3 linked regions of the Homo sapiens genome follow. The protein of the gene in region 1 interacts with the protein of each later gene in a pairwise test. Each region holds a gene or a part of one and is shown in the gene's direction. Other genes may lie near its edges.

Region 1 (7,028 bases):
AATCTTGGAGGCCAGAAAGAAGAACAGCATTCTTAAAGTATGGAGAGAAAAAGAATTGTCAACCCAGAATTCTATATCCAGTGAATATTTCACCTTCATTTCTAAAGGATATTAAGATATTATTAAGAATATCTTAACAAAGAAACTAAGAGAATTCATAGTCAATAGATCTTCTCAAAAGGAGTTTTAAAAGGAAGTTCCTCAGACAGAATGGAGATGATACCAGATGGAAACTTCAAACATCAGGTATAAAAGAAGAGTGGTAGAAATGGTAAATATGTGGGTAAATATAATGGACAGTTCTCTAAAATAGGTTTCATAGTTTTATTAGTGTTCTCTTAGAGGGACAGAACTAATAGGCTATATCTACATACATATGTATTGGGGAGTTTATTAAGTATTAACTTATACGATCACAAGGTCCCACAATAGGCTGTCGGCAAGCTAAGGAGCAAGGAGAGCCGGTCTGAGTCCCAAAACTGAAGAACTTGGAGTCCGATGTTCAAGGACAGGAAGCATGCAACACAGGAGAAAGATGTAGGCTGGGAAGCTAGGCCAGTCATGTCCTTTTCATGTTTTTCTGCCTGCTTTATATTCTCTGGCAGCTAATTAGATTGTGCCCACGAGATTAAGGGTGGATATGCCTTCTCCAGCCCACTGACTCAAATGTTCATCTCTTGGCAACACCCTCACAGACACACCCAGGATCAATATTTTGTATCCTTCAATCCAATCAAGTTGGCACTCAGTATTAACCATCACATGTCTACCCCTTGTCAACTTGAACTGATACACATCTCCTGAGATCATACATAATCTTCAAATAAAGCCAAAATAAGGTCATAATTACGCCTAACATAATACAACTATCCTTCGTACAACTAGAAACTCACCAATCCCCAACCCAAATACTATTACATAAAGTTAACAATACTTAAATGCTGATACAAAGTCAGTAAACCTTATGTCACATGATAAAGGAGAAAGGAAATAAAATGAAGATGCTTTCTTAATTAAGTGTATGCATGCACAAACATGTTTTTAACAAAAGGAGGAAATACTCATGACAATTACAGTCCTCGTTTCTGCAGCTGGTCACGTGGTCGTAGCTGGTATTGATGATTGCCTTCTACTACTACCCATTCTGTATTCCCTTTGCCTTCAGTAAGCACCTCAGCAGGTCGTTTTTTTTTTTTCCTGGTGGAGTGACCCAAAAAGGGTCACTTCATTCCTGAAGGGTCTGGATCATTTGTAGTCCTGCCTGGATTGGGCTGTTGTAGTTTCTCATTGATCTTAATCACAGGGCATGGTAATACTAAGAGATGCCTTAATGGATCTCCTGTATTCCATGCATACTCTTCCTTACCTCCGTTCTAGAGTAGTAGACTGATTTCATCTTGATAGTCTGGGTCAGTCACCCCAGCCAACATTGTAACTCCCTTCTCAGCCTGTTGACTTAAAGGTAGAGGAGCCCAAAGTATCAAGTGGCAATCTTAACTTCCAGTTTAATGGAATTATTGTGTCTCCTGGTGGCAGCGTTCCTCCCTCTGGAACTAAGACCTCTAGGCCAGCAGAACGCAATGTCATGGGAATAGGAAGCAAAAATTTTGCTAGTGGATGTCAATCTTTTAAAAACTAAATTAAAAAAAAACTAAACAAATTGTAGCACAGCATCTGACACAAAGCAAACTCTCAGTAAATCGCAGCAGCTGCTGTTATTACATTCTTCCAGGTCTTTCCTTTAACAAATCTGTTCACCTGCAATGCTACATTTTATCATTATGGCAGGCCCTGTGGGTGTTACTACTTAGATTTTACATCTTAAAGACTGAAGTGCAGAAGTTTCATGGCAGACCCCTGCCAACCAGCTGGAAAATTCCCAACCCAATGTCCAGAGCGCATCTCTGACTCCCAGTCCTGAGGCCTTTCCAGTTCACCAGACCACCTCAGCCATTAGAAGGGTGTCAGCTGGATTTGTGTGCCCAACGAGGTGTGTTGCTTTTATGTAAAAGAGAAGCACATAAGGAAGAAATCATGAGTGTTCAGGATCCCTTTCCAGTCCCTTAAAGAGGCTGCTTTTGCAGTAGCGACATACTACCCAGTGAGCTCAGCCATGCAGTTTTTCCTGCAGGGTTAGAGTGGATCACTTCCTTCAGTTGATCACCATTTGAAGTAGCAGGGGTTTGAGTTCAGAGGCCATGTACGAAAATGATTTTAAAAATACCTGGAGCCTCATTTAGCACATGCAAGACTGAGACTCAGCCAAGGGGGCTATCTAGAGAAGGACGGAACCCCCTCCCTCTGTACTATTTACTCTGAGTTCATAAAAAAATTAGCCAGGCGTGGTGGCGCATGCCTGTAATCCTAGCTACTTAGGAGGCTGAGGCAGGAGAATTGCTTGAACCTGGGAGGCAGAGGTTGCAGTGAGCTGAGATTGTGCCACTGTACTCCAGCCTGGGCAACAGAGTGAGACTCCGTCTCACAAAAAAAAAAAAAAGAAGAAGTAAATGGGTTCTAAGTGTGTAAATAATGAGGTCACAGAAGTCTTCATGTGTTGCAGTGAGTCTTTGTTGAATATGAGCCAACTGAATATGTTGTTACAGTTTCTAGTACCTTTTTAAAAATTTTTTATATTTTTCCTTAATAATAGAGATGGGGGTCTCATTATGTTGCCCAGGGTAGTCTCGAACTCCTGGACTCAAGCAATCCTCCCACCTCGACCTCCCAAAGTGCTTGGATTACAGGCATGAACTACTGCACTTGGCCTTTAGAGACATGGTTTTGCTATGCTGGCCAGGCTGGTCTCGAACTCCTGGCCTCAAGTGATTTGCCCACCTCAGGCCTCCCAAAGTGCTGCGATTACAGGCATGAGCCACCGTGCCTGGCCTGCAACTGCCTTTCTAGCCTTTCTTGTTCTCTTGTTTCTTCTCTCTTCCCCACATTTCGTGGGCCAGAGAGAAAAATAGAGATGGTTGCATATTTCAGAGCAATCTTTATTCCCAAGCATTTTATCAGCCACTAGAAGCCCCCTATGTTTGCCACTCTGGGCGGGGGGGCACTTCATGGAGTCAGGTAAGATGCTTACTGCCCTCTGGCACCACCTGGTCTGCCTCTAGTTAGGCAGGATGTTGGAGGCTGCTAGAAACTTTGACTGCTAGCTCCATGAACTGTGGCTTGGGAGCAGTAACCTAGGTCAGGAAAAATTCCTTCCCTAGGAAACCTGGCCTTGTCCATTTAAATCACAGTATCCTGCGATTCCAGCCCATCAGGTGGAACTGACTGGAGGAGCACCTACTTTTGGATTTTTTCCCGGTTCTCTAATTAATGGCTTCTTACCTGTAAGCTTAGATTAGCTGCTGTTTATAAGGCTTTCCCAAGGTCTGGCAGGAACGTGCCAGTGCCCCAGAACTATCAGGTTTGTATTGCTTGCCAGGGCTCTGCGAAGATTCCAAAGCACATCTTTCAAAATACTAAATATTTGTGTTGTATTATATCCATATCCCTATGCATTACGGAAAAAACAGGAAAGTATAAAGAAAGCCCTCACCACCCAGGAGTGACTGTCACTGTTTACGCTCTCGGTACGCTTCTTTCTGGTTGTAATTATACATACCACCACCACTACCCTGCATACACACGTTTTTCACCGTTGATTTCCCTAGGCTATTGATGACCCCCTTTCCCCTCAGTACTTAACACTAGAGCATGAGCATTTCTCCACATCATTTTTAAAACATTCCCAGAACATGGTTTTTATTGCTTCCATGGCTGCACTTGGGGACCTGCCATGATGTTCCTAACTGGTCTTCATTCAGGCTGACTGCAGTTTCCTTGATTAATGTCTTTGTGAGTATATTTTAATTTAAATTCTTTATTTAAAATGAATACCTAGACATAAAATTATCAGATCAAAGAATAGAGAGATATATAAGAGGGTCTCACTCACTACTGCTGGCCTGTGCTCCATGTCTTCCCACCGCTCTGCCGCCCAGCTCCTCCACCGATCACAATGGAAGAAGAGATCACCATACTCGTCATTGACAATGGCTCCAGCATGTGCAAAGCTGGTTTTGCTGGGGACGACGCCCCTGGAACCATGTTTCCCTCCACTGTCAGGTGCCCCCAACACCAGGGCATGATGGTGGGGATGGGCCAGAAGGTCTTCTACCTGGGCGACAAGGCCCAGAGCAAGCACGGCATCCTGACGATGAAGTACCCCATCGAGCACAGGATTTTCACCAGCTGGGAAGGCATGGAGAAGATCTGGCACCACACCCTACAACAAGCTGCATGTGTTCCTGGAGGAGCACCTGGTGCTGCTGACTGAGGGCCCCCTGAACCCCAAGGCCAACAGAAAGAAGATGGCTCAGATCATGTTTGAGACCTTCAATACCCTGGACATGTACGTGGCAGTCCAGGCCATACTTCTATGCCTCTGGGCGCACCACTGGCATTGTCATGGATTCTGGAGACGGAGTCACACACACGGTGCCCATCTACAAGGGCTATGCCCTCCCCACGCCATCCTGCGTCTGGACCTGGCTGGCCAGGACCTGACCACCTCATGAAGATTCTCACAGAGTACGACTACAGCTTCCCTACCACAGCCAAGCGGGAGATCATGCGTGACATCAAGGAGAAGCAGTGCTGCGTCGCCCCGGACTTTGAGCAGGAGATGGCCACCGCTATGTCATCCTTCTCCCTGGAGAAAAGCTACAAACTGCCTGACAGCCAGGTGATCACCATTGGCAACATGCAGTTCCAGTGTTTGGAGGTGTTGTTCCAGCCCTTCTTTCTGGGTGTGGAATTTTGCAGCATCCATGAGACCACCTTCAGCTCTATCATAAGGTGTGATGTGGGCATCCACAAGGACCTGTATGCCAACACGGTGCTGGCCAGTGGCACCACCATGTACCCAAGCATCTCCAACAGGATGCAGAAAGAGATCACTGCCCTGGTGCCAGCACAAGGAAGATCAAGATCATCGTGCTCCCAGAGCGCAAGTACTCCGTGTGGATCAGCAGCTCCATCCTGGCCTCATTGTCCACCTTCCAGCAGATGTGGATTAGCAAGCAGGAGTATGACAAGTCGGGCCCCTCCATGTCCACCACAAATGCTTCTAAATGGACTACAAGCAGATGTGTAGCATTTGCTGCATAGGATAATTCACACGTATAAATTTGCCCCTGACAAATGTATACACCTCATGCCAGCCTCACAAAACTGGAATAAGCTTTTGGAAAGAAATTTGTCCTTGAAGCTTGTGTCTGATATCAGCAGTGGATTGTAGAACTTGTTGCTGATTTTGACCTTGTATTCAAGTTAACTGTTCTCTTGGTATTTGTTTAATACTCTACATATCTTTGATTTCAGCCCTTAAGTGCATGTGGTTTGGTCACTTCATGGCTGAGGTGAAGAACATGCTTGTGGAAGACAAGTCTATGGCTTGGGGGGTCTGTGTGGCTGGCAGTCTCCCACTGGTGCAGGGTATTCATGTGTCAGGGCTGAGTATTCTGGGATTTCTCTAGAGGCTGGCAAGGGCTCCTGAACCAGTTGTCATTTCTGTCTTGCCTGTAGGACCCAGTTTCCTTTCTTAGCTGATGTTTTCCTGCCAGAACACCATGGGCTGTTACTTGTCTTGAGTTGGAAGCGGTTTGCATTTACACCTGTAAATTTATTCATCCTTTTCATTTATGTAAGGTTTTTTTGGTATGCAATTCTTGAGTCTTTAAGAGATGACAACAAATTTTGTTTTTTTTCACTGTTATGTGAGAGCATTAGGCCTAGCAGCACATCATTGTGTAAGAAAAAATAAAAGTGCTGCCATTTAAAAAAAAGACATATAAGACTTTTGAAGGACTGTGTATTTTTGTGTCTGTCTATATCTATATATATTACAGAGATAATATAGAATTACTCTCCAGAAAGCATGCAGTCATTTATGTGCCTTCTAGCTCATGCATTCTCCATGAAGGCAGAAATCGGCTATTAGGGTTGGGGGCAGTCCTAGAGATTACAGTGGTTTGTGGCCCTCCTGCAGGTACAGTGCATAAACAGATACACAGTACATCTGTAGTACTAAAATTTTATACAGGGGCTATATTGACAAAAAGGTTGAGAAGTACTGTTCTAGCTGTATGTGACTCCATACATCTGTCTCCACCTTGGAAGCTTTCAAATCTTAGCTTTGGGATTTTGGTTTTGGGTTTAAGAATAATATTTTTCTGACGTAAAACTTCTTGGTTCATTATACAAAGTTGAAGAAACTGAGAAAGTTGTGAATAAAATTTATCTGGAGGTTACCAATATTAATATTTTAAAATATTAATACTTAATATTTTAATCTATGTTTTTAGGTTTGTGTTCCGCCCTTCTTACATAATTGTCATTGTAGGATTATCATTGTTCATCTGAGCCAAGGACCACCCTGAAATATCCCTTGTGCTATGGTCTCATGCAAGGGTTTCCCATGCCTGTGAGTGTGTTTGTGATCCCACATGTATCAGGTGCCTGGCTGCTCTGGGACTTGCAGTAATTGTCTCTTGTTTGTTTCAGGTGTGATCCCCTGGGCCCGTTTGTTGTCGGGGGAGAAGACTTAGACCCTTTTGGGTGAGTACTGCTGGGGAGGTGGCAGCAACACAACTTGCTTTTGTGGCTTTTCAGCCCCAGCTCATCTTCTAATTTTAGAGTTTTCGGTCAGTCTCTTCCTTTGGGGTGGAGGAGGCAGTTGTTGCTGAGCAGCTGAGAAAGCACTGCCACATACGCTGCCCCTCCACACCTAGAGCGGTGCAGGAGAGCACTGAGTGTTGGCAGGGAGGTGAACAAGCCTAGCAGGCAGCTCTTCTGCCATTTCCCGGTCCCCCTGCCCACCCTAGTTTATCAGATGTATAGTGAGGAGCACATGGTGGGCCTTAGGGCAGCTCAGGGCTATTCAGAGGTTGCCCCACTTAATAAAGGGAGTCTCTGAGCCCCATTAGACTCTGGATGGTTCTTATGCATCCAACAAAGTTACTACAGCCTCTGCTATC
Region 2 (7,028 bases), 8.4 Mb from region 1:
AAGGGAGGCTCCAACAGAGCATCCCCTACTTTGGCAATCAATCCATCAATTTATGCACCACCCTCAACAATGACTACATTCCATATAATGAATTCCACACTATGGAATAAAAAAGGAATAGGCAAAAAAAAGACTAGGATATTAGTTTATGAACACTGACTATATTATGCTCAGTGAAAGAAGTCAAGCTGAAAGGCTCCAGACTGTATGATTCCATCCATATGATATTCTGGAATAGACAAAACAATAAGGACAGAAAACAGATCAGTGATATCAAGGGTTTGGGGAGAGGGTAATGTTTGACTAGAGGAAACTCAGGAGATATTTTTGCAGCTGGTGGCACTAATTTGTATGGCACTCTAACAGTGAATACATGATGCTTTGCACTTGTCAATACCCATAGAGCTTTGCAGCACAAAGAGTTAATTAATGTACGTAGTTTCAAAAAACAACAAAAAATAAACCAGAAGATCAGAGGATCCTGGGATAGAATGCAGAATGTGACCAAAGAATCCAACAGCTATACATTTATAACATAACCTCATTGAAGGGGGTGCAGGAAAAAAGACACTAACTTAAGGAACTTTGGAAACAGTGCTTTGAATGCAAACTATAAGTGTAAAGGAATTTTAAAGAACTGGACTTAAACATGGTACTTGAGTTGACAAAGTTGTTTCTCATGGTAGAGTGAGTTAATCTGAAACTGCTGAACAGTTATACTAGCACTGAATAGGCAAATGACTGGCAGATGGTGGGGCCCATGTTTTTTACTGTTGCAGAGGAAGTTACAGGTAAGGAAATGGCAAGAATGAATTATGTGGTACTTGATTAGATTCAGAGACATTAATGTGGATTTATGTTTAGGTTAATATAGATACAGATGGATGGATATAATTATAGGTGTGTGAGTGTGTTCATGAGTTAGTCTACAAACATATTATTTCGGAGCTCTGTTTGCTGAGGCCTGGCAATGACACCCAGTAGCAATGAGTATTCCTGGAACCAAATCTTAATTTCTAATACTATTAGCGTTCCTTGGAGAAATGCCTGATTTGGGGGGAAGGGCAGGGAAAATAAAAGATAAACCTGGAGCTTCTTGTAGGGACAGAAAGTAAGGAAGTGCTCAAAAAATAAAAGGAAGAGGGATCATCAAAGGGACACAGCAGCCAGCCTGAGAGAACTCCCAGTGACAAAAGCTGGAACCATTTGAGCAACAAGGCAAATAACAGAGTGTTGGCTTATAACCCAAAGTATAAAATAAATAACCATAAGTCCATCCATCCTTATATATAAATAAATGATTGAATGAGTAGGTAAATGGGAGCAAATAAGCAAGTCTCCTGTGCAGAAGAATTCCAACTACTTTATATAGATACCCTACCCCCACCACACACACACACCCAAGAAGATAAAGCTTAAATCCCTGACCCTTGAGTAGACGCTACACTTACTGACTTGTTCCCAAAGAATACAATATACAGAAAGCTAGGGAAGGGGAGTGTGACTGTGTGTATAAGAAACCTGGAAAATATGACCTCACCCAGGTAGTCAGGGCTAACATCATCATTCCTAAGTCGTGTCGACGATATGTACCCTAAACATTATGCGATGAAATGTGACTTGACTCTCTGATCTTCCTCCTCAAACCAAATAACCTCTGTTTAAACATGGGAAAAACACCAGAAAACCCCAATGGAGGAACATTCTCCAAAATACCTCACCAGTACTCCTCAAAACTGTCAAGGTCATCAAAAAATAAGGAAAATCTGAGAAACTGTCACAGATCAGAGGAAACTCGGAAGATATAACAAATAAATGTAATGAACTATCCTGGATGGGACTCTAGAACCCTAGGAGAAAATTAATGAAATCTATAGGAACATGGAGTTTCCTTAATAGCAATGCAAGATATTAACTCAAGGGGAAACTGGATGAGAAGTCTATGAGAACTCTGTATTCTCTTTGCAACTTCTCTGTTAATCTAAAACTATTCTAGAATAAAAATTTTATTTGAAAGAAAAGGGTATAGTACAAAACTATTAGTCCAGGACTCTTGGAAAGAAAAAAAATAAACCCTTTGTTTCACCATGGATAGATCTATAAAACATCAGCTCCAGGACAACTTTGACTTCTTCCTCCAGTTTGAAATCTTCTATTGTACCATCCAAGATAGTTTTGAACTCCTTGCTACTTGCTCAAAAGTATTTTTCTCCTAAAATCCTGGAAGTCTGAAGTCACAACACTTTGTTCTTTGTTCTTTTATCCACCCCCATCATATTTGCCTGCAAATCCTGTCATTGTCAAGGCACGGCTGACGGGCTTTGTAAGTGGTTTGCGATGTCTTTCAGTTCCTGGTATTCTTGTGTTATTTAGGTTCATTAAAGGGAACAATTTGTCACTAAGATCCAGGTGCAACCATCATTACTAAGCCATCCAAAATTCAGCGGTGATGTTACACAGAAGTGTGGCCATAACAAACAAGCAGTATAGTATAAGTATATATACTTAATAAGAATATCACATTTGATCATAAATCACACAAATAATCTTCAGTCTGTTTCCTAATTACAGTTTCAGGAAGTGCCTGCCTCATCCATAAAATTTCATAACCTCAGTTATTATGTCTTCCATATAAGGGCAAAAAATGTACACCCATTTCTAGTTATGTTAATAGTTGGGTGATAATGCCTTCTGGTTTTGAAAATCATCTGAATAATGAATGTAAAACAGTAATAAATATTATTTTTTATTACCAAACAGTTATAGAGTGTTAAATTATAATTATCAGCTCATCATTAGGTGGTTAGGGCTTATTATTTAGGTAGAAGAAGTAGGGGGAAGGGATTTGCCTGTAAACTGGTAAATAAAACAGTTATATTCTATGTAGTCTCCTACATGGCTTTTTGATGGTTATTTGATGTCTCTGTTGAGATAGGTAAGAAGAAAAATGCAATTTGAGATTGTTTACTATTTGATTTATTTCACCACTGAAGTCAATCAACACATTTTCTTTATCATTTTGTGTTAAGTGTTCCCGGGGTCTTTTTTCTTCTGTAGTTTAATTTGGATGGAGTGGGGGTGGGATGCCACCATCAATTTAAATCCATGAAATATTTTCTTTAAACAATATTCCCTCTATTATTCCCAGACAATCGTTAGAGGAAACAAACCCTGCAAGGAAACCTCCATCAACGGCCTGCTAGAGGATTTTGACAACATCTCGGTGACTCGCTCCAACTCCCTAAGGAAAGAAAGCCCACCCACCCCAGATCAGGGAGCCTCCAGCCACGGTCCAGGCCACGCGGAAGAAAATGGCTTCATCACCTTCTCCCAGTATTCCAGCGAATCCGATACTACTGCTGACTACACGACCGAAAAGTACAGGGAGAAGAGTCTCTATGGAGATGATCTGGATCCGTATTATAGAGGCAGCCACGCAGCCAAGCAAAATGGGCACGTAATGAAAATGAAGCACGGGGAGGCCTACTATTCTGAGGTGAAGCCTTTGAAATCCGATTTTGCCAGATTTTCTGCCGATTATCACTCACATTTGGACTCACTGAGCAAACCAAGTGAATACAGTGACCTCAAGTGGGAGTATCAGAGAGCCTCGAGTAGCTCCCCTCTGGATTATTCATTCCAATTCACACCTTCTAGAACTGCAGGGACCAGCGGGTGCTCCAAGGAGAGCCTGGCGTACAGTGAAAGTGAATGGGGACCCAGCCTGGATGACTATGACAGGAGGCCAAAGTCTTCGTACCTGAATCAGACAAGCCCTCAGCCCACCATGCGGCAGAGGTCCAGGTCAGGCTCGGGACTCCAGGAACCGATGATGCCATTTGGAGCAAGTGCATTTAAAACCCATCCCCAAGGACACTCCTACAACTCCTACACCTACCCTCGCTTGTCCGAGCCCACAATGTGCATTCCAAAGGTAACGTTTGCTACCTCCTTTCCCTCACGTGTGCAAAAACCTCCACAGGGGTGGTGCTGGCACGACCTTTTTATACGATTGGATTGTAAAGTACTTGTTTGCCTTTTAAGGGAAAATCAATATCAAAACCCACCCTATCTCCACTTGTGAGGCCCCAGGGCAGAGGTTTAGGATAAGGCATATATATTCATTAAAATAAAAATCTATCTTTTGGGCCCTCCTACGTGGTTTCTCATTAAAAGGCGAATAAACTTATTGATTTGAAAGATAGAATTCTGATATATGAGTGATAAATATGATGTGACTGTATTTGACTAAGTTCCCTGTTAAGGAGTGGATCAGTCATATACAATCATAGAGCATTAGATCGAGCCATCCAGTGGTTCCTACATCCTGGCAAAGTTTGCATAGACCTGCTAAAAAGGAAAGAAACTCAGTATAACATGGTAATTTTTAAATAAAGCCAATTTTGTTCAACTCAGGGGATGGCCCTTCATATTAAGAGTATGTACTTTCTACTATATTTGATTTGAAATATTGGTTTTTATATGAAATTTGGGGGTGACAGATGGTTGCTGGACCGCTGGACCATTTTTGTCCCCTTTTCACTTTGTTTTGTAGTAATTCCTCTTTTAAATTTTGTTTAAATGTTAGCAGCTCCAAGTTTGCTTTGAAATTTGACTGGTCTATGATATCCTAAAGTTTGGGAATCACTGCCGGAGAAGTTACTGAAACTAAAAGCACAGGCAAAGGTCTATGGGTCCGAAGGTCTAAAGTCTTGGAAAATACCTTTGAGAATGTGCAAGTGATTTATTTTTCCCTGTCATTTAGAAATGTTTTTGCTACCTTACCTGTCCAGCAAAAGAACATGGACCGTAGGGTGTGGAATGTGGATTACATAGAGGTCTTGAAGCAGGTGAGAGGGACATGACTTCTCACAGGGCAGTCATGTACTTTATTTATACCAAACTCTTGACAGTTTGGTGAGCAGCACAGAAAACTCTGGAACCCAAGCCTGCCTGCATTCACCTGATTTATTGATTATAGATAGTCGATATTTTTCCTTTGCTTCTTATTTCTCATTAACCTCATCCAAGATGTTGAAGAGAAGCCATTTAAGTGTATTGTTGGAGTTACTTCAGCCATTCTTTAGAAGAAACAAAAAAGCTGTCACCTTAGTTCCCAGGATATAAAATTAAAAACAAATCTTGATAAATAGAGGCCTGAGATATGTTCCTCCAGTTAAAATTCACATAGTGACAGTGTTTTTTTTTTATCTCGTGGTATTAATGTACTTGAACACCCACACTCAGGATATCATGACTGCTTTCTCTTCCTGTGTGCTTGCCAGGGTGACTGTTGGAAAGAGGTCTAATTAACCACAAGCAAAATCTACTTGAACTCATACGCATGTCTCATGATACATGAGATAGTTTATTCCATTTCTTGTGCATATCACTTGTGCATTTCTGTGAGTGATATGAAATAAATAAGTTAACATGTTCTATAGCTGAATTGAGTTACATCCTGAGGCTTTGAATATCAGTGGTTATTTTTTTATCTAAGATTTTGTGTGCGTGTGGCTTATTTGCATATTTGTGTTAGGGAGTTGTTTGGGGTCATAGTTACAGAGAAAACATTGCCCAGATGATGCTGCATTTTGGTCCTGGAGCCTTATTTGGCTCTTCCTGGATGTTGGAAATGAATATTGGGTGGGCTACACATGTCTATAGTCCAAATAGTTTTAGAGGTCAAGAGTTTTAGAACTCTTAATTCTGGAGTTTCAGTCTTCTCTCTTTTTTATTTTTATTTTTTTAAAAAGGATGAACTGGTATCCCTGAGTCCACATTTTCACATAGCATGGGCTTTTGGGATTTAATGTCACCACCAGCAATCCCTGCACACTCATTTCCTAGAAGGGGAAACTGAGGCCCAGAGAGCCACATGACACACTTACAGTTTCATAATTAGTTGGTTGCAAAACAAGGACAAGAACTCAAGTCTGGTGTTTCTCCCTGCTCAATATTTTCCTATTATTTGGGCGTATGTTATCTCGGGGACTCAACTGCATTTGCCAAGAAAATCCATGAGAAGTCCCAGTGGCCACCAGAACTTTCGTCTAAGTGACAGAAGAACGAGGGTGGGAGGGGTGATTCACTTTAATTCCCTACAGGCTCCCTCTATTCTGCAGACTTCCAAATATAAGACAAAGCAGACCTGCCCTGAAATCTGGCTCTGCCAGCCCAGAAACAATGCACAAACTATTGTGGCTCACCACCACCAACAACAACAACAAAAACAGCATAATCACTCATGGGAACTTCTACCAAGGGTGTTCAGCCCTTACGATCAGAAATACAAAGAAGCAAGCTGCTGCTCCATGTTTCACAGGAAACTCGTGAGAGATTCATGAGCAGGTTTTTGTTTTGTGGGAGGATAAGAGGTGGGAGGCAGGTTAGTAATTAAAACGTTCACTTGATTAAAAATACAACATTTCTCTGAAAAGACGGAGGTGCCTGTGTCTTTAGAACGGTACTCTTAGAGTGTACCAATCACATTTGGATTTCCAGCTGAGGGAAGAAATAGCGGTCACGACTCAGATGAGTCGGCCTTGCTTGCAGAGACTCCTAAAGGAGGCTGGGTCATGTTTTCATCTCCAGTAATAAAAGGAAGCACAAAACTTGTGTAGGTCTCCAGATGAAGCAGAAATGAGGAGGGTCATGTGTGTGTACACATGTGTGTGTGTACACACGTGTGTGTGTTTGACACAGTTTTACATTTTGTCCTAAAGAAAAAAAAAGATTAATGTTAACCCACAGAAAAAAAAAATCCTTCAATGTTATCTACCTACTTAATTTCCCTGCTAGCAGGACAGGAATCAAGAATGTTATGAGTTTGTTGATGTTGGCCTCCTCTCCCTACATTTAAGTGTATTTTGCTGGAACTAAGCAGATGAAACCCTGGGGTTGGGAGGGTGGGAAGCAAAGCCAAACAAAAACCATATAGCACCATACCCACCACAAAATTATGAAAACTGCCAGATGTGGAGAGAGAATGCTTTCCACCCTCGCCTGCAGACAAATCTGCCTTCCAC
Region 3 (7,028 bases), on another chromosome or scaffold:
TTCCACGTAGTGGATCCTTCCCTCCTAGCCAAGTTAAGGGCAACCTTGTGTGTTGACTTCTGTGTTGCCCTCACATGTATCAGATCCTGCAAGACTATGTGTCATAAATTCTTTGCGTAAAGGAACGTGATCTAGTAGAGTCTTGAAATTTAGTGAGGGGGAGAATCCAGCATACAATCTTTTTAGATCTTGTCCAAGGAGTATAGTTACTAAACTCCAAAGGATTTCAGGCTGCCAATAAGGTAGTCACGTGGCATGGATCCATTTTAGTAAGATTCCTTTGTGTTTGTTTTTCTGAAAAGGATTCAGCGTCTTGGAAAGAGATCAGGAAAAATGCACAGGTTTCCTTATAGCATCCTGTCTCGCTAGAGAGCTCGTTGCTCCAAAGAGCTTCCTTTTCCTGGTATCTATACCTGGAGAAGTCATTGACTAATGATAACTGGAAATACCAGTAGAAGTCAGTGAATGCTTCCAATCTCAATCTCCTGTATACTTTTCACCAATTTTTTTTTTTATCAAAGAACTTGGATTCCACTATGATAGAAGAAGCCTGTCTTCCGAAAAGGACTTCTAGAGCCACAAAGTGCTTGGTTAACACCTTGGTGATGGTGAAAATCCTGTGCCCCTCCTGGACTACCATGTGCCCCTCCCCGGGTTAGGGTTCAGACTCTTGCTTTAGGATTTAGGAAACCAGAGAATATTCAGTGGCTTGGCTAGTATCCAGTAGCAGGTGGGCGTAGTTAGGAGGCGAGACCAGGTGTGGGTGTAATAGCCCAGCCTGTCCTGTCCCACACTAACACTGCACCACACTCAACGAGCTTCTACGGCTCGGCCTGCTCATCTGCTCCCAGCACCCACTGTCCCCAGATTATTTAGGTTGACTCAGCTTCTTTGTCATTGTCACTTGGAGTCTTCAGGCCTCGTTTCTGATCCTCTGCCCCACCTGCCCCAAATGTGCAAGGAAACCTCTTTCTTCCTGTCTGCCAAAGCCTGTCACTCATCATTCCCTGCTGTGGAGTAGAGCCCCAGGACTCCCTCCTCCTAGGCAGCAGCTGCAGGGGTGACCTGCTCAGCTGCTTCTGCTGCTTTGGGTGAAGAGAGTGTGACTCAGTAAACCCCAGAGACCATTCCTGAACGTCCCGTCATCTCCCCTAAGAAACTTTCCACACTCTGCCCTTCTTCAACCTTCCCTGCCGACTCTCAGCTCACCTCTCAGCTCTCCTCTCAGCACAGACTTCTGCAGTTACTGCAGTTTTCTGTGTTCCATCCTTTTAGTTGTTGTTTGTTTGTTTGTTTGTTTGTTTTGAGATGGAGTCTCACCCTGTTGCCCAGGCTGGAGTGCAGTGGCACAACCTTGGCTCACTGCAACCTCCGCCTCCCAGGTTCAAGTGATTCTCCTGCCTCAGCCTCCGAGTAGCTGGAACTACAGGCGCGCGCTGCCACGCCCAGCTAACTTTTGTGTTTTTAGTAGAGACAGGCTTTCACCATGTTGGCCAGGCTGGTCTCAAATTCCAGATCTCGGGTGATCCACCCACGTCAGCCTCCCAAAGTGCTGGGATTACAGGTGTGAGCCACTGTGCCATCCTTTAAAGGATGTGTTCCATCCTTTAAAACATGCCACAGTGAGCTAGGCCGTGAGCTTACTTCCTCTGAGGAGGGACCTGCTTCTGGCCTTCTGCCCTCTTCCTTTCAGCACTGTTTCTTCCTCCTCAGTCCCCCGACGTCCTGATTTTTTGTGTATTTGTTTCGTTTTGTTTTGCCTTTGGGAGACATGTTTCTGCACACGGCAGGCGCAGCCCACCGCCAGAACCCCTCACACCTGCCACCTTCCTCCCTCATTGCCACCTGCAGCTTAGGATGCTGGTTGTCAAAATGAAAATACAAAGTTATGCAAAACTCAGGTTGTATTTTCAGCCATGTACTTTTCATAGGCATAAGTTCTGGAACTCTGAAACTGAGGTCATGACAAAGCAGATTTGCCCTCAGAAGGTTCCAGAATCCTTGTGACGCCTTCCTGTTGCTAATGGTAGCACTGTATCTATCCTAGCATTATATCTACAGAGCAGAGGCAGGACCTTTGGCAGGAGACACATCCCTTCTCCTGTGATGTGTCAGTTAGTGTAGAGAAGCAAGCTGGCATGGACTTGAGAGCCGGGGTGGGTATCTGCCCCATGTGGCCTGGCTATGGCTGCTCTGTTCAGGGAGCCTGGGGTCAGGGGTGGCGGCCACCAACCTGTGCCAGAGAAGGCTAGTCTCTGCATGGACTTCAGTGCAGGCATACCCGGCCTGATGGGGAGGGCTGTGGGTGGAAACCACACAGAAAAGATGCCTCCTCTTGCTTGAATTGTGGTGTTAACTAGCCGGGAACGTATGTGTCTGGTTGCTGAAATTAATACCGCATTTGCCTGTGGGCTTATCTTTCAGGATTCCTTTGGGACCTCTTCCAGACACACCCTGTTCCGTAGCCTCTCGAGAAAGTAGTAAATTTTGCTGACTCTGCGTTATTGAAATCTCGCTTGGTCGTTCATTCTCATAAAATCTGGAATATGATTTATTGTTTATATATTGTAATTTTCACAGGGGTTTGAAGTAGAAATAGTTTTATCTCAAATTAGAATATTTCTCCTCTCAAGCATATGCCAACAACACATAGCAATATTGTAAATTTGGAAATCTGTGTTATTTCCGTGTTCACTCATGTTCAATTAGACAGAATTAATATATTCTGTAATGTTTTTAGTATCATTTTTAAAAACTAAAGATATTTACTTCAAAATAGTGAACAGTAAATTCAAAATAAACTTCCTTATTTAGTAACATAACACATATATTAATAAGCTAAATATCTAACTGGAAAGCACAAAACGGCTAGGTTATTGTGCAGTTACCAGTTCTACAGAGAAACCTGGCTTATCCTAAGTGCAATCATTATGTTGATCCATATATATATATACATATCCTTATATATACATATATTGATCATTATAATTGATCCTAAGTGCAATCATTATATTGAATGTGCTGTGTGTATTTGTAGGAGCTGTATTTTTCTTAACAGATGCTGTCTGTTAGCCTTTTCTTTATCTTACAGTTTAAATTTCAAGCATTTATTAGAGTAACTGCATGAATGTTTACACACACATACCCTGGCCTAAGATTTTTTTTTTTTTTGAGACAGGGTCTGCCACTATCACCCAGGCTGAAGTGCAGTGGCACAATCTCGGCTCGCTGCAACCTCTGCCTCCGGGGCTCAAGCAGTCCTTCCACCTCAGCCTCCAAGTAGCTGGGACCACAGGCACACACCACCATGCTGGGCTAACTTTTGTACTTTTTGTAGAGACGGGGTTTCTCCATATTGCCCAGGCTGGTCGCAAACTCCTGAGCTCAAATGACCCTCCCATCTCAGCCTCCCGAAGGGCTGGGATTACACGTGTGAGCCACCATGCCCAACAGTGGCCTAAGATTTTATCTTTTGGGTTTGAGAAAAAAAAATTCATTTCTCTTCATCTTTATGAAGATACTGGCTGATGCACAGTTTAAGAAGATAGTGTGTTTGAAATAGCTCCTAACAGATATCAGCATCCTCTGATATTATTATTGATAGAAAATATTTTCTTTTTCTTTTTTTTTTTTTTTTTTTTTGAGATGGAGTTTCACTCTTGTTGCCTAGGCTGGAATGCAATGGTGCCATCTTGGCTCACCACAACTTCTACCTCCTGGGTGAGCCGGGTTCTCCTGGCTCAGCCTTGTGAGTAGCTGGGATTACAGGCATGTGCCACCACGCCTGGCTAATTTTGTATTTTCAGTAGAGACAGGGTTTCTCCATGTTGGTCAGGCTGGTCTCGAACTCCCGACCTCAGGTGATCTACCCGCCTCGGCCTCCCAAAGTGCTGGGATTACAGGCGTGAGCCACTGTGCCCGGCCAAAAAGATTTTCTATCTGTGCAATATTACAGACATCTTTAATATTTATTAAGTACTCCCAGTGCAGTATAGAAGTTCTTTCATTTTAAAAAAATGTCCTGAGACGGGAGAAAAATCTTAAAAAAAGAAGTCAGTGTAGGTGAAGTGGGATTTCAAAGTGGCCTGTGACCTTTCGCACACAGTTACGCTGCAGGGGAGGTGGCAGTGCGTTTGGCATGGGAGGAGGGCACGGTGGGGAGGTTGCACTTCCGCCCTTCCAGTGCTGGTACCGCCAGTGACCTCGAGTGGCAGGGACCCCTCGGTCATCACCAGGCTGATGTGATGGGAGTCAGAGTGCCAGAAAGACAAAACCCCCTCGCTTGCCATGCTGCCACACTCGGCGCCTCTCTGTCTCCTCGGCCGTCCTCTCTGAAGGTGATGTCTCCAGCGGCAGCGTGTCATCCTGGAGGACATTGTGTCAGCAGTGAAGCCCTGCATCCCTGCCAGTCATCCTGAAGGACATTGTGTCAGTAGTGAAGCCCTGCGTCCCTGCCAGTCCAGGCTTTCTTCCTTGTCCTTGCCCCGCCTGGTGAAGCTGACAGACAGTGAGCAGAGCGCTTTAGTGACCTGCCCATTCCTCACGGGTGGCTGTGGCCCATCAGAGCAGAGGGGTTCCGCGGTCCAGTTCTATCCTTGACCTTCTGTCTCAGCCTGTTTCCTCATCACCTACTCATTCAGAAAATGCTTCCAAAGAGGGAATGTCATGTTTGTTCCTGATGACACACTCTCAAGAAACCTCTTTCATCATAAGCGACTTGCAGAAAGAGATTAAAATGAGAGGCACCAGGAATAGGATGGGTTTTTTCAGACCGTAGTCAGTTTTCCTGCCTTTGCGTTTTACAGATTAAGTTCATAGAGTCAGTCATCTTTCCCATTTCCAAAGAAGGGTTGTTTTTCTTTCTCTTCTTTTTGGTTAGTGAACTGTTTTCTCTTTCACTAATTTAGAGTGCTAACTTTGGCCCTGTTTCCATTAGGAGATGAAAGCATGGAAATAAAAAAGCAAATTACAGGGATGAGAAGATTGCTGAACGACAGCACTGGGCGGATCTATCAGCGAGTTGGCAAAGAAGGAGAGAAACTAAAAGAAGAGCCCCAGGACCTGGATTTAGTCTGGCCTCCACGTTTGAACTCCTCTGCTGAGGCCCCGCAAAGCCTCCACCCGTCTTCACGTGGTGTGTGGAATGAGCTACCGCCCCAGAGTGGACAGTTCTCAGGGCAGTATGGCACCCGTTCTAGAACCTTCCAAAGCCAGCCCCACCCTACCACGAGCTCCAATGGTATGGTTGTCAACAAACATTCAGAAGGCTCTCATGGGGGTTTGTACTGTTCTATTTCTAAATATTCAGTGTGTTGAGTTCAATTTATTAAACCCTCCCATAATTACCTGCCTTTGCTGAGTTACTTTAAAAGACAGGGAGACACAAAGGAAAGAGTTGAAGACTATTAAAAAACAGAATTGAGAATTAGGAAAGACAGGGGGTTCTATGTTATAAGTGAAGATTTCCTGGTAGAGATTTTAGCCCTTTAAGAGGTTAAAGCGATCATTTTGTGCCCATGTATGGATATTATTGTCACAAAAAAAACCTGAACATTAGGGCAGAAAGAGCTCCCCACTGTCTTTAAAAGAAGCTTCCTGGTCCTATGGTGTGTTACTAACATATCCTCTTGGTTACTCCTTCACCTTACTCATTATCAGAAGAGTCCCAGATAAAGGCGGGGGCGGACAGGGGTGGGGGGCCGATAACCCAGCATCCCACGTCAGTACTGAACCCAGTGATCCATATTTTGTAACATGCTTCATTAGCAATGGAAAGTATTCCTTTAAAGTAAAATTTTCTTAATTTAAGTTTCCTAATTGTTAAGAAAAGAATCAAATGACAATTTTTTTTCAAAGCTTAAGGAGAAAAACCTGATGCTTTTTGTGGTCATATTAGTTTTCTATCCGGCCACACTGGATGCTATAATATTTGTTCTATAAACTCTGTAGAGATGTGCAGATCTATAGTTTTCACAAAGAGAACAAGAAAAAGGTAAGAAAGCATTTTCAGTTTCCTTAAGAAGTTAAGGATTTTTTTCCATTCATTTTCATTTCACAATATCCTTCAAGAAAAAGAGAACTGTTTTGACTTTTTTTAAAAACACAATTTGTGGTTCAGAGGCATGAAAAGCCATCCTGAGACATTGATGAGACAGCGAAGGACCCCAGAAATGTATGGGTGTCTTCTCTGCCTCTCAGTAGTACATAAGCCAGTATCAAAGTTCCAATGCTGGCATGCCTCCAGGTTAGAGGGACACAGCTCTTTAAAGACTCCTCCATAAAAATAAAAAGTCAGTTCTCTTTAAAATTAGAAAATGATTTATAACAAGCTGAAAAGGGTTGGTTTTGTCTTCTAAAAATGATAAAAGATGGTACTTAGAATAGTGACTAGAAATATTCTTTAAGACCTTTCTAACTCTACTACCATGGAAGAGACAATAAGAGAAATAAAATACCCTTAGGTATGTATGAAGTTAATAAACCCCACATCAGTAAGTTTTGGGTGAACAGTGTTCTGTTTCCCAGTATACAGTAGGGACAGTGGATTTACTTTGAAAAGTATGAAGTTAGTAAAAGTTACAAACATAAATTCCCCCATATCAGTTTGAAAATAGATATTTTATGTTTTCAATAGAAATATGGCTAGGCGTGGTGGCTCGTGCCTGTAGTCCTAACGCTTTGGGAGGCCGAGATGAGTGGATTGCTTGAGGCCAGGAGTTCGAGACCAGCCTGGCCAACATGGCGAAACCCCATCACTACTAAAAAATACAAAAATTAGCCGGGCGTGGTAGCGCATGCATGTAGTCCCAGCTACTTGGGGGGCTGAGGCATGAGAAGCGCTTGAGCCTGGGAGGCAGGGGTTGCAGTGAACCAAGATCATACCAGTGCACTCCAGCCTGTGCAGCAGAGCGAGACCCTGTCTCAAAAAAAAAAAAAAAAAAAAAAGAAAAAGAAATATATTACATATAACTGTGACTACTTTGGTATTTCATTGGGATTATTTATAATTTTAAAGTTGTAACATTACA

The links. The genes of interacting proteins can lie anywhere in the genome.
Region 2: the proteins of PSMF1 (region 1) and PAK5 interact in binary tests that used the Homo sapiens proteins (3 or more experiments, as listed by UniProt).
Region 3: the proteins of PSMF1 (region 1) and BEND7 interact in a two-hybrid assay, tested with the Homo sapiens proteins (2 studies listed by BioGRID and IntAct).

The regions. Positions count from the first base shown.
Region 1 is NC_000020.11:1,156,575-1,163,602, forward strand, and holds part of PSMF1 (proteasome inhibitor PI31 subunit), read left to right. Parts: intron 1-6,555; coding exon 6,556-6,609; intron 6,610-7,028. UniProt on the Homo sapiens protein: Plays an important role in control of proteasome function. Inhibits the hydrolysis of protein and peptide substrates by the 20S proteasome. Also inhibits the activation of the proteasome by the proteasome regulatory proteins PA700 and PA28.
Region 2 is NC_000020.11:9,577,051-9,584,078, reverse strand, and holds part of PAK5 (serine/threonine-protein kinase PAK 5), read left to right. Parts: intron 1-3,148; coding exon 3,149-3,934; intron 3,935-7,028.
Region 3 is NC_000010.11:13,497,989-13,505,016, reverse strand, and holds part of BEND7 (BEN domain-containing protein 7), read left to right. Parts: intron 1-1,423; exon of another isoform or gene 1,424-2,156; intron 2,157-4,337; exon of another isoform or gene 4,338-4,507; intron 4,508-4,936; coding exon 4,937-5,239; coding exon of another isoform or gene 5,240-5,278; intron 5,279-7,028.